2 separate regions of the Homo sapiens genome follow, and region 2 is linked to region 1. The links come from fine-mapping of genetic effects on gene expression. A gene starts in region 1. The other region holds a variant in brackets. All regions are shown on one strand. Distances are between the middles of the regions.

Evidence for each region. PIP is the estimated chance that this variant, and not a neighbour inherited with it, causes the effect.
Region 2: its variant is fine-mapped to the expression of AKAP13 in whole blood (TOPMed, PIP 0.94).

What each region holds. Positions count from the first base shown.
Region 1 is chr15:85,377,585-85,382,961 of GRCh38, reverse strand. AKAP13 (A-kinase anchoring protein 13) reads right to left here and starts at 2,359. Exons shown (of 37, transcript NM_007200.5): 1 at 2,164-2,359. MIR7706 (microRNA 7706) reads right to left here and starts at 2,366; the gene lies at 2,300-2,366. RefSeq lists silencers at 1,655-1,822, 1,479-2,048, 2,429-2,508.
Region 2 is chr15:85,542,744-85,548,120 of GRCh38, reverse strand. AKAP13 (A-kinase anchoring protein 13) reads right to left here. Exons shown (of 37, transcript NM_007200.5): 5 at 4,166-4,349. Among named protein-coding and RNA genes, the nearest start is that of AKAP13, 160 kb to the right of the region's middle. The variant C/G (reference allele first, on the strand shown) is at 2,718.

The DNA of each region.
Region 1 (5,377 bases):
ATTAAAAAAAGGTTAGAAATCCTTTTAAAGTAAATGTCATCACAGATCTGCAAGTGAACTGTCATTCTGGACAGGTCCCCAGTTAGTGGCTCTCTCCTGTGTACGCTAGCTACCACTAGGCAGTAAAAATAATTTACCCAATTCAAACACGTACCGTGCCTGCACTATGTTAAGACTACCGGCAAAGAGGGTAAAAAGCTAAATAAGGTCTATCACAGCCCTCAAGGAGTTAAAGGACTAGAGGAGGAGTCCATTTATAGTATAGTATGTGTGCAGTTACCATTTAGTCAAGGCAAAAGAAGTGTGAGAAATCCTAAAACAATAGTACCTACAGTATAACATGCCATCACCGCCCAGAGAAGGAAAGCAACTAGTGCACTCGTCACGTCATGTTGTAAGTAGTACTTGCTTACATTATGTCCCTCCCTGACAATCCCTTCCAACCTCTGTCAACCTCCTTCCCCACAATCACACACACAAAACCACACAACCAGGAAGGGAAGCCATGGAGCGAGTACTGTGAATCCTAAAAGCGGCTCTGTAATTTAAAAGTGCAATGGCTGTACCTGAAGAAAATTTGTCTTTAGCTTCATCAGGTGAAGAAAATTGGTTTTATAACACAAGGCCCACCAAACCAGAAAAGCCCAGGAACGCTTCTCCACAGGACTCACTTAGCACGAGAAATCACTCTGAGCAAACTGACACACACAGTATTTCTCAAATTTTTCTTTTTCATTTAGCAGATGGTAAAGGAATACAACTGAAGTTAACAATAAATGACACTCTGGCCATTTTGCTCCACTATGAATGACAGACATTTAAGCTAGTTCCATCTGGGGAACTGAAACAGAATCATGTTCATATAATAAGCCACACAAACCAAATTAAGTGTAATATGTGCACCCAAACTTGACAAAACTTGTACTTAATGCAGCCTGCAAATCCCCAAGAGTCCACGACAGAATACAAGAATAGTAACAATGATTTATCTCAACTGATCTTAGCTTCTTCACAAACTTGCCAATAATGACCTTTCAAGAACTGCACCGTTTGTCCTCATCTGCGCAATCCAACAGTTCAGAAAAACTGAAGAAAATGCTTCTTCTAAAAATAAAACACTTGTTGTGGGGGGGACTACTAACAAAAAAAAAGGCACACTGGTTTTTACTGTACTGAAGCAATAAACTCTCCAAATAACTTCATTAAGGAGTGTCATTAGCAAAGAATGAACACCAAAATACCGCTCAATCCAATTTTCATTGTGAATTCCGGGATCTAGAAAATTAAATGGGACGGTATCACTCTGCTATAAGAACTATTTCCAAAACAAAACAAACCTATCTACCCCCTTTCTTGATTTTTTTTTAAAAAGTTTTAGGGTTTTTCCTTTTTTCAACTTCACATACTTCGTGGCTTTGCAAAAAAAAAAAAAAAAAAAAAGCAGTAAACCGTATTTACCAAAAAAAAAAAAAAAAGTTTTGTTTGGTATCAAAGTATAGCTGCAAGCTGAGCCGGCTGGCTGCACGGGTCCCAGAGCGCGTGGGGACCGCACGGGTCTCCTGGGCCGCTCGCCTGCGACCCGCGCGGGTCAGCTGGGCCGCACCCCCGAGAAGCCGCGGAGAGGCACCGACAGGCAGGCGCGGCCCGACGTGTTTACCGTCCGCGTCGACCCCGGGGAGCCGCTCCCTCGCGCCCGCAGCACTTGTTCACGGCGCGGACTCCACGGCGGGGACTCCACACCGCGGCCGCCCGCCCCAGGGGAGGAGTGAGCCCGCCCCGGCGGCGCCGACCCGGGGACCCGGGGCAAGGATTCGGGGCCTCGCTGGGGGCGGAGCGCCTGAGGTAGCATCGGCGGCCGGGCGCGCCCCCCACCCGGAAAGCGGCGACGGCCTCTAAGTTGGGCTGCGGAGTGGGAGGCGCGCCGAGCCCCAAGCAGACAATGCGGGAGAAGGGCGATGCGCAGGGAGGAGGGGTCCGCAGACCTGAGGTCCCGGCGCCGCCCGGCGACCCGTCTGTCCAGCCCGCCCCCGAAACCCCCGCAGCCCCCGCCCCTCCTCCGGGGCCCGCCCCACCGAGCAACCGCAGGGGACTGGCCGCGCTCCGCGCCCCGACCCACAAATCACAAAACTTCCCCCAACTCCGCCAACTAAGTTGCGCTCTCACCGTGCGGCTCCCGGGGCTCCCCCGCGGGCCGAGCTGGGACAACTCTTCACCTTCGCCGCGGAGAAAGACAATAGGCGGCCGCTCCCCCGGAGGCGGCTAAAGCGGCGGCGACCGAGGCGAGCAATGGGCACGGCAGTCTCGGCAGAGCACAGGCGCTTCACCGCGGCTGCTCGGGCTCCGCGCTGGCCCTGCACACAGCTCCAGTCCGCGCATGCGCCGAAAGACGCTCGGGAGGGTGGGCGGGGCACGCGGGAAGGCGGTAACGCCTGCGAGTCCTCCCGTGAGTACACGCGGAGCAAGAACTGCGAGCTGGGATTGCACGGCAGAACTGCCCATCTCGCTGCATGAGACCAATAGTAAGGCTCCTGGACGGGGCACTCAGGTTGCTAAGGGAGGCTGAGGTTGACCGCCGCTGCTGCTCGGCGGCAAAGTGATCAAAGTAGGGTGGCTGGCAGAGGCTGCTCTGGGAAATGCCCACCCACGGTCTCCTCTCCGCCCTGTCTCCAGAAACCGCCCTTCCTCTGTGTACTGGTGGTTACCTGAGCTGCAGCACTTAACCACACATCGTGAAATGATTTACTCCTCTATTTCCCCCACTTCAACTCAGGAAGTGGGGTTTAGTCTTCTGTGTCCACAGCCTAGGACCGTCTAAGGTATTAGGTATTAAATATAGGTATTAAACAAGTGTTGGATGGATGCACGGCGCTATGGCGGAATCACAATTGTGACAGTGCATTCCGTGAACTTCTGGCTACTCGATCACCACAAAGTCATTCCGTGTTCGAGCTGCAAAGGACCTCAAAAATCATCTGGTTGCTTTGGGAAACAAAATGTGGTCCGTGTACCAATGGTGCCGGTAACCACCGGCCCACAGAGGAAGGGCGGTTTCTGGAGACAGGGCGGAGAATATATTAGTTGGTACACGAAGAAACTTCTTTTTTCAAATAGTTAAGTGTTTTTAGTGCGCATTAGGAGGGAAATGCCTATCACGTCAAACCACTGTTTCATTAATGTTATTTCTTAGGTCAAATAAAAAGTGGCAAAAAACGAAAGCACTTCAAGAAAAGTGTTAAGTAAAAAACTGAGACAATTTATATGCAGTTGAAGAACGTGTAAAACTAGTTGATAGTGATTGAAGTAAGAACAGCGGTTAGGTAGGAGGAGAAGATTATTGGCTGGGAAGGAGGAGGAGGGAACCCTCTGGGGTGCTGGTTCTGTATTTTGACCTGGGTGATAGATAACAAAAGTATATACATGAATAAAAAATACATCCAGTGCACTTTAGTGCACTTTGCACATTTTAAACATGTATTTTTAATGTCAGTTTTCAAAAATCTGGTACAGGATATTACCCCCCCGCCCCCAAAAGAAAAGCAAAGATGCAAATGACTGCCATTTGGGAAACACTGATCCAGGCGGCTCACTAGCAGTGACCAAACACCTGAGAAAGGGTATTGTGAATACCTGATGTGTGTGCCAGGAACTTCCATTGTTGAATAGCTCCAAATCTCAGAAATGCTCCTAATGTTGAGCTCTGGTGCTCACATATATTTTCTCTTTTTTTCTTTTTTCTTTTTTTTTTTTTTTTTTTTTTTGAGGCAGAGTTTCACTCTTGTTGCCCAGGCTGGAGTGCAATGGTGCAATCTCAGCTCACTGTAACCTCCACCTCCAGGGTTCAAGCGATTCTCCTGCCTCAGCCTCCCAAGTAGCTGGGATTACAGGTACCCACCACCACACCCGGCTAATTTTTTTATTTTTAGTAGAGACAGTGTTTCACCATGTTGGCCAGGCTGGTCTCAAACTCCTGACCTCAGGTGCTCCACCCACCTCGGCCTCCCAAATTGCCGGGATTACAGGCATGAGCCACCGCACCCGGCCCTATTTTCTTAAGTAACCCTCACCGAATGGCTTTAAAAAAAAAAAAAGAAAAGAAAAGAAAGGCCAAACATGCCCAGTTCTTCATGTGAAATTATTTCTGTATCACTTCATCATGCTGCTCACCCTCTTCCACTGTTCTCTAATCTGTCCTTGTTGATTTTTAAAAACTGGCACAAGGCCTGGCGCGGTGGCTCACACCTGTAATCCCAGCACTTTGGGAGGCTGAGGAGGGCAGATTGCTCGAGCCCAGGAGTTCGAGACCAGCCTGGGCATCAATTGAAACGCCATCTGTACTAACAAATACAAAAATTAGCCAAGCATGGTAGCCCAAATCTTAGCTACTTGGGAGGCTCAGGTGGAAGGATTGCTTGAGCCCAGGAGGCAGAGGTTGCAGTGAGCCAAATCATGCCACTGTACCCCAGCCTGGGTGACAGAGCCAGACCCTATCTCAAAAAAAAAAAAAAAAAGGCTGGCACAGAGAGAGAAGCAGCCTATCATGAGCCGGTCACTTCTCAAAGAACCTGAGTCTTCTGTGAAGCAAGAGTGCTAACCAAGAAAATCACTTGGACCCTAACATTTGATAACCCAGTGAACTTCCCCCTTAGAACCTAGCTTGTTTGTTTCAGAGGCAGCAGTAAATGTTACCATGTCATCTTTCTACGGACACTGACAACACCGTTCCCTGCTCCCCGCCTCAGCAGGATTTACACCTTTCCAGTGGGCTGCAGGAAAAGTTAAGAGTCTAGCACTTCTTGAATTTACTGTGCTTACAAATCACCTGGGAGTGTTTGTTAAATGTGGATTCTGATTCAGTAAGTCTGGGGTGGCATCTGGGATTCCGCATTTCTAAAAAGCTCCCAGGTGCTACTGACGTAGCTATTTTGAAACCCGACTTTTTTTTTTTTTTTTTTTTTTAAGACAGAGTCTCACTCTATTGTCCAGGCTGGAATGCAGTGTCATGATCTCGGCTCACTGAAACCTCCGCCTCCCCGGTTCAAGCGATTATCCTGCCTCAGCCCCCCAAGTAGCTAGGATTACAGGTTCACACCACCACACCCAGCTAGTTTTTGTATTTTTGGTAGAGACAGAGTGTCACCATATTGGCCAGGCTGGCCTTGAACTCCTGACCTTAGGCGATCTGCCCGCCTCGGCCTCCCAAAGTGCTGGGATTACAGGCATGAACCACCATGCCCAGCCTGAAACCCAACTTTGAAGGCAGGAGTCTACCCTAAATTCCCCAAACGGTTGAGCCCTCTGTCCTCCTTGGGAATTCCTAAATTGTTATCTGCATGGCTGATGTCGTCTCATCATTCAGGCCTCAGCTCAAATGATCCTC
Region 2 (5,377 bases), 170 kb before region 1:
AGTCCCAAGATTTCTACTTTGAGATGTGTGAGTAAGAGATCAGCCAGATCCAATAACATCTGGCTCTAATATTTTCTTCTTAGATAACTACAATGCCACGCTCATCTGATATTGTCACTTCCTAGCATTCATGACACCAAGAGCCTGCAAACTGGGGTCTTTACCTATTCTCTCCATTACTAACTAGTTAGGTGACCATGGGTGGGGTCTTCAAATCAGAGGAGATGATTGTCCAACTAAAGGAAAAGTAGGCCTACATGTTTTGGGTACTCTTCTGGGGCTAAGATTTCTCAGGCAAGACAGAAAATTAAAGAAAGGGAAATAAGAGATAACATATATGTCAATCACTGAGTTATGCTCCCTACATGAATTCTTTCATTTACTTAGAGTGAAACTTAAATACAATGTATTTAAGATGAATTTTCAGATCACAAATGCATTCATATTCATAATGTAAGATCTAAATATAAGCTAAAGTGAAACAGCAAGTCAACAAAAGCTCTGCCTTCCCTAACACTGAACAAAGTGAAAGTTAACAATCATGGGTTACAAAAAAGGGAAACTGTAAAAAAAATGTCCTGAGTAGTTATTACTATCTGGTAGGATTTAAAATAAAGTTCAAGTGTTTTCTAAAGGGATAGGTCTTAGAGAATCCTTATATGTCCAAGAATGGCTAATCATAATTTTCGCAGAAGTAAGACTTGCTTTATCAAAATAGACTGGCAATCAAAATAAGCCTTGAACAAAGAAACACAAAAAGAACTTGGGCCCTAACCAGCACAAGGCTCCCCACACCCCACTTAAAAATTAAAAAGCAAAAAACAAGGTAAAGCACCAAGGAATTAAAACAACAAATGTACTTGGGAAGGGCTATAAATGGGGTTAAATAAGCTTGACTTTTCAGTAAAGTGTAGAATGCAACTAGTTATTCAATAAATGTAAAATATACATAGCCATACTTCAATTTCATACTAACTGAAAAGAGGCAATAAAAGAGGCCGGCTTATATGTGGACAATTTCATTTTTAAAAAGCAGGGTGGGGAAGAAGATACCCAAACTATTAGAAAGATAGCATCATGGCTGGGCGCGGTGGCTCACGCCTGTAATCCCAGCACTTTGGGAGGCCGAGGTGGGTGGATCACGAGGTCAGAAGTTCGAGACCAGCCTGACCAACATGGTGAAACCCCGTCTCTACTAAAAATACAAAAATTAGCCGGACATGGTGGCGCATGCCTGTAATCCCAGCTACTCAGGAGGCTGAGGCAGAAGAATTGCTTGAGCCTGGGAGGCAGAGGCTGCAGTGAGACAAGATCGTGCCACTGCACTCCAGCCTGGGCTACAGAGCAAGACTCCATCTCAAAGAAAAGAAAAAAAAAAAAAAAAGAAAGATAGCATCATACATTGTGGCGATTCTTAACTTTCTACAAACCCCTTCGTGAATCTCACCAACAAATGCTTTATTCAGAAAAACATGTGCATAAACCTTTATAATTTCAAGAGATACAGACCCCATGAAGTCTATTCTTGGGCCACTTTTTAAGAATCCCAGGAGTGGAAGGAAAGAGCTCTGGACAGCTTTTGGCTTCTATTTCTGGTCATACCACCTTGTTATCTTCATCCAACCACTTTGTCTCTCTGGATCTCAGTTTCATCTGTTAAAGATGATCTTTTCTTTTTAAGGCTGTAGTATTCCGTTATATGAATATACCACATTGTCCATTTATCTGTGATGGACATCTAGGTTGTTTACACTTTTGGCTGTGTGTGTGTGTGTGTGTGTGTGTGTGTGTGTGTGTGTTTGGTAACAACAATTATATAAATTTATTTATGGGGTACAGTGTGATGTTTTAATCTATGTATATACCATAGAAAGATAAAATCAACCTAAGTAACATATCCATCATCTCAGCTACTTATTTTTTTGTGGTGAGAAATACATTCTTTTTTAGCAATTTTGAAGTACGTATTGTTTTTCTGACACGTTACAACATGGGTGAACCTTGAGGACATTAGCTATGTAAAAGACAGACACAGAAAGACAAATGTTGCATGATTTCACTTATATGAGGTACCTAGAATGGGCAAATTCTTAGAGACAGAAAGGAGAACAGAGGTTATCAGGGGCTGGAGAAAAGGAAGTTCAGTTTGGGTGATGACAAAGTTCTGGAAATAATAGTGGTGATGGTTACGTAACTCTGTGAGTGTTGTGATGGTACTGAATGCTACTGAATGCTGTCCCTAAAATTTACTATTTTAACCATTTTTACGTTATGTATATAGGAAAAGAAAGGGGAAGGAAAGGAGAAAAGAAAACCAATAACAAAATGATCATTCTTGATTCTTTAACAACTGAAATTCTACCAAATTCTACTAGAATCACTCTCACACTGAGTGATTTGGGACAATCGCCCCCTTTCCATTTTTTAATCGCTAATTATGACTCAGAACTTTTTCTAAGCTTCACAACAGTAACATCCCAGAATTCAAGTTAAGAGCTAGATCTGCAGCAAGGTGCTCATCCTCTCCTATCAGGGTCCTCTATTGGTGATTTCTCAGGTTGGTTTTCCCTTACCAATCTCCCTTCAAAAGGAGGTAAGTGGCTTTCCCACATGTAACAGAAGTAGTACTTTTAAAGTAAGCAAAAAAAAGTCAAAGAACAAACACACTCTAGTTTCCTTAAAGCTGTGCTGCAATAACAGTCTTGTGACATCCCCTC[C/G]AAGGATATAATGAAGCTGTTGTAATCACTTTATTTCCCCATTTGGATGGCAGTCCTTAACCAACTCTGCTTCCCAGCAAAAATCAAATTTAGAGGAAATGCATTTGAACTTCACAATAGTTATGCAGAGTTAACTGTTTCAACTTCTGAAACAAGGCCTCTCTTCCTGAGGCCATGAGGCTAACCGTAGAATGAATCCAATCATTGGCCAGATGGGAAGTGTGAAGGAGTAGAATGTATCACTCCCTGGAATACTGTCTTAGGAGAGCTCAGGTATCCAAAGCTCATTTGAGATAAGTGCCCCTCCTACCACCACTGTATCTGTAGCACCCATCAGAAAGCTTTCTGCAAAGAACTGTCTGTCTAGCGTGATGGGGAAAGGTATAAGCCTGGCAAGTGAATCAAGAAAAAGCTGTTTACATAACCGTAAGTAGCACTACATTCTGAGGTCTCTTTTTGGTCCTTCCAGACTATATACACAGTTAAAAATGGTAAAACATAAAGCACAACTAAATTAAATCTGGCATGAGCAAAATATCTGAGAATTTGCTAATACTGACTCAATTTGCACAGGTCCCTCAATTGCTAAAGAACATAGATCCAATGGGTTTATACTTGTTCAGATAATGTGGTGGAAAAGATAATGATGATAACCACAAAACTAATAAAAATGTATTAAACAACAGAAACTATTCTTGAAACTTCTTTATATAAACATTCCAATAAAAACTTTTGGCTGCTCTAGTGTGTTTATTTCTTTATTTATACAAGAATAAAAGAGCGCTCTTCAAATGTTTTGACTAACAACCTTCCTCTAGAGAACTCTTTAAAGAGTCAGGACATATAATAATTGAGCCCAAAAACAGACAGGATTTCCTACTGCACATTTCCAGGACAATTCAGTTGCTTTTTATTGCTGTTCATATGAAGAAACCACTGCTCTCAAATTTTATTCACAGAAATTACATTCAATCCAAAACTTAATTGTTTACAATATTTTCTGTATGCAATTATAATATGGAAGTACTGGTTTCTAATTAACTCTTTCAAGTCTTAAAGACATACCAGAAAAAAATATATGATATAGGAAATCTGTTTCCTCTTGTACTAAACCAGGATAAACTGTATACATTGGTAATGTTATGCTACCTCCACAGACAAGGCTCATTCTGACTTTTGAGTAAAATAGTAAAATATAAGAGATAAGAATTGAAGAAGGCAGGCAGGCAGACGAGAGAGAAAATGGTTAACACGACTTACGTTTCTCTCTCAGACAATGAAGTGGTTAGCAGGAGCAAGCTTACAAACCTCCAGCAGAAGGCAAGATACAGAGCTGAGGTTTTAATTTGCGGCAAACACACAATGAGATGCCAAGTGGGTGGTACTCCTATGAATCGGGGGTGGGGCTGGGGATGAGAGGAGGGAAATAAGGCAGAAGGAGCACTTACTCGGTTAGAAGCTGGTGCAGCTTGTGATAGCCTCGCTCCAAGGCCAAGCTCACAGGCGTCGCCCCTTCCTGGTTGTGGATACTGAGAGCTCCGCGGCCACCTGGCTTCTGCAACAGGAACCACGTCAACCTCAGCAGTCCCAGCCGCACAGCAAAATGCATCAATGTCTCTCGCGGGCCAGCATCTGTAAATGGGGGAGAAAATGAACGTAAGTGAGGAAAATATAAAAACAAAAAACAAACAAACATAAAGACAAGTTATGTAAACACCACTGCCTCCAAGTGCCTAAGATTGTAAAGTTAAGCTACAACATACAGTGTGAACAGCTTTATTGTGGCCAGGTAGAATCAGCCCTCAAGTAAAGGCAAAACAAAGCTACAAAAGCATAGAAAGTATAGGAAGCAAAATCTTCAATCGAACACAGTCCTGCAAAAGAGAATCAGGACATTTCTATATTCTGACTTAATACACAGTGTTTGTTCAACCAATTTCACAGGCAGGCATATAAAGGCGACCCATACACACGTTCTTTTACTCAAATAATAATAACAGAAGCAAATGCAGCCCCACAACATGAGGTCCAAGAGGGAATAGCTGTTGGGACTTAAATGGGTGTATCATAAATGGTATAATTACTTTTTAAAAGAACACCCAGACAGGAGTTGGCTAGTTAAACACTAAAAACAGGTTCTGCTTGTTCAGTACACATGGGTCTTTTTATTCCTACACAATAAGGGCAAATCAAATTTCTGGCACTGCCAGCTTTATTTATTTGTTTAATGAGAGGAAGAAATGCATCTCCTGGCACAATAAGGAAGACTAACTCTAAGACAATCCACTAATAACTGCAGAAAGGAAAACGTTTATTTAACTTGAAATAAAGGCTCCCTCTTAGTAAAGTGAGTCACTCTGAAAGTGACAGAATGAGGAAGGGCTTGTAGTTAGACAAATCAGGGTTCGAATCTGGCATTTACCATCTGTGTGACCAAGCGTGATTCATGTAACATCTCTGAACTTCACTTTCTTCATCCCTAAAGTGAGATACCAACACCTCACTCACAGAGGTGTAACAAATGAGAAGAGGTAGATGAAATGCTAGTATTATGACTGGCTGTAGTAGACATTCATTAAATCCCAGTTCCTCTCTGTTTCCCGGCTCTCTTCACTGTCCTCTTGGACATCAAATTACATTCAAGGTTCACTAGCAATACT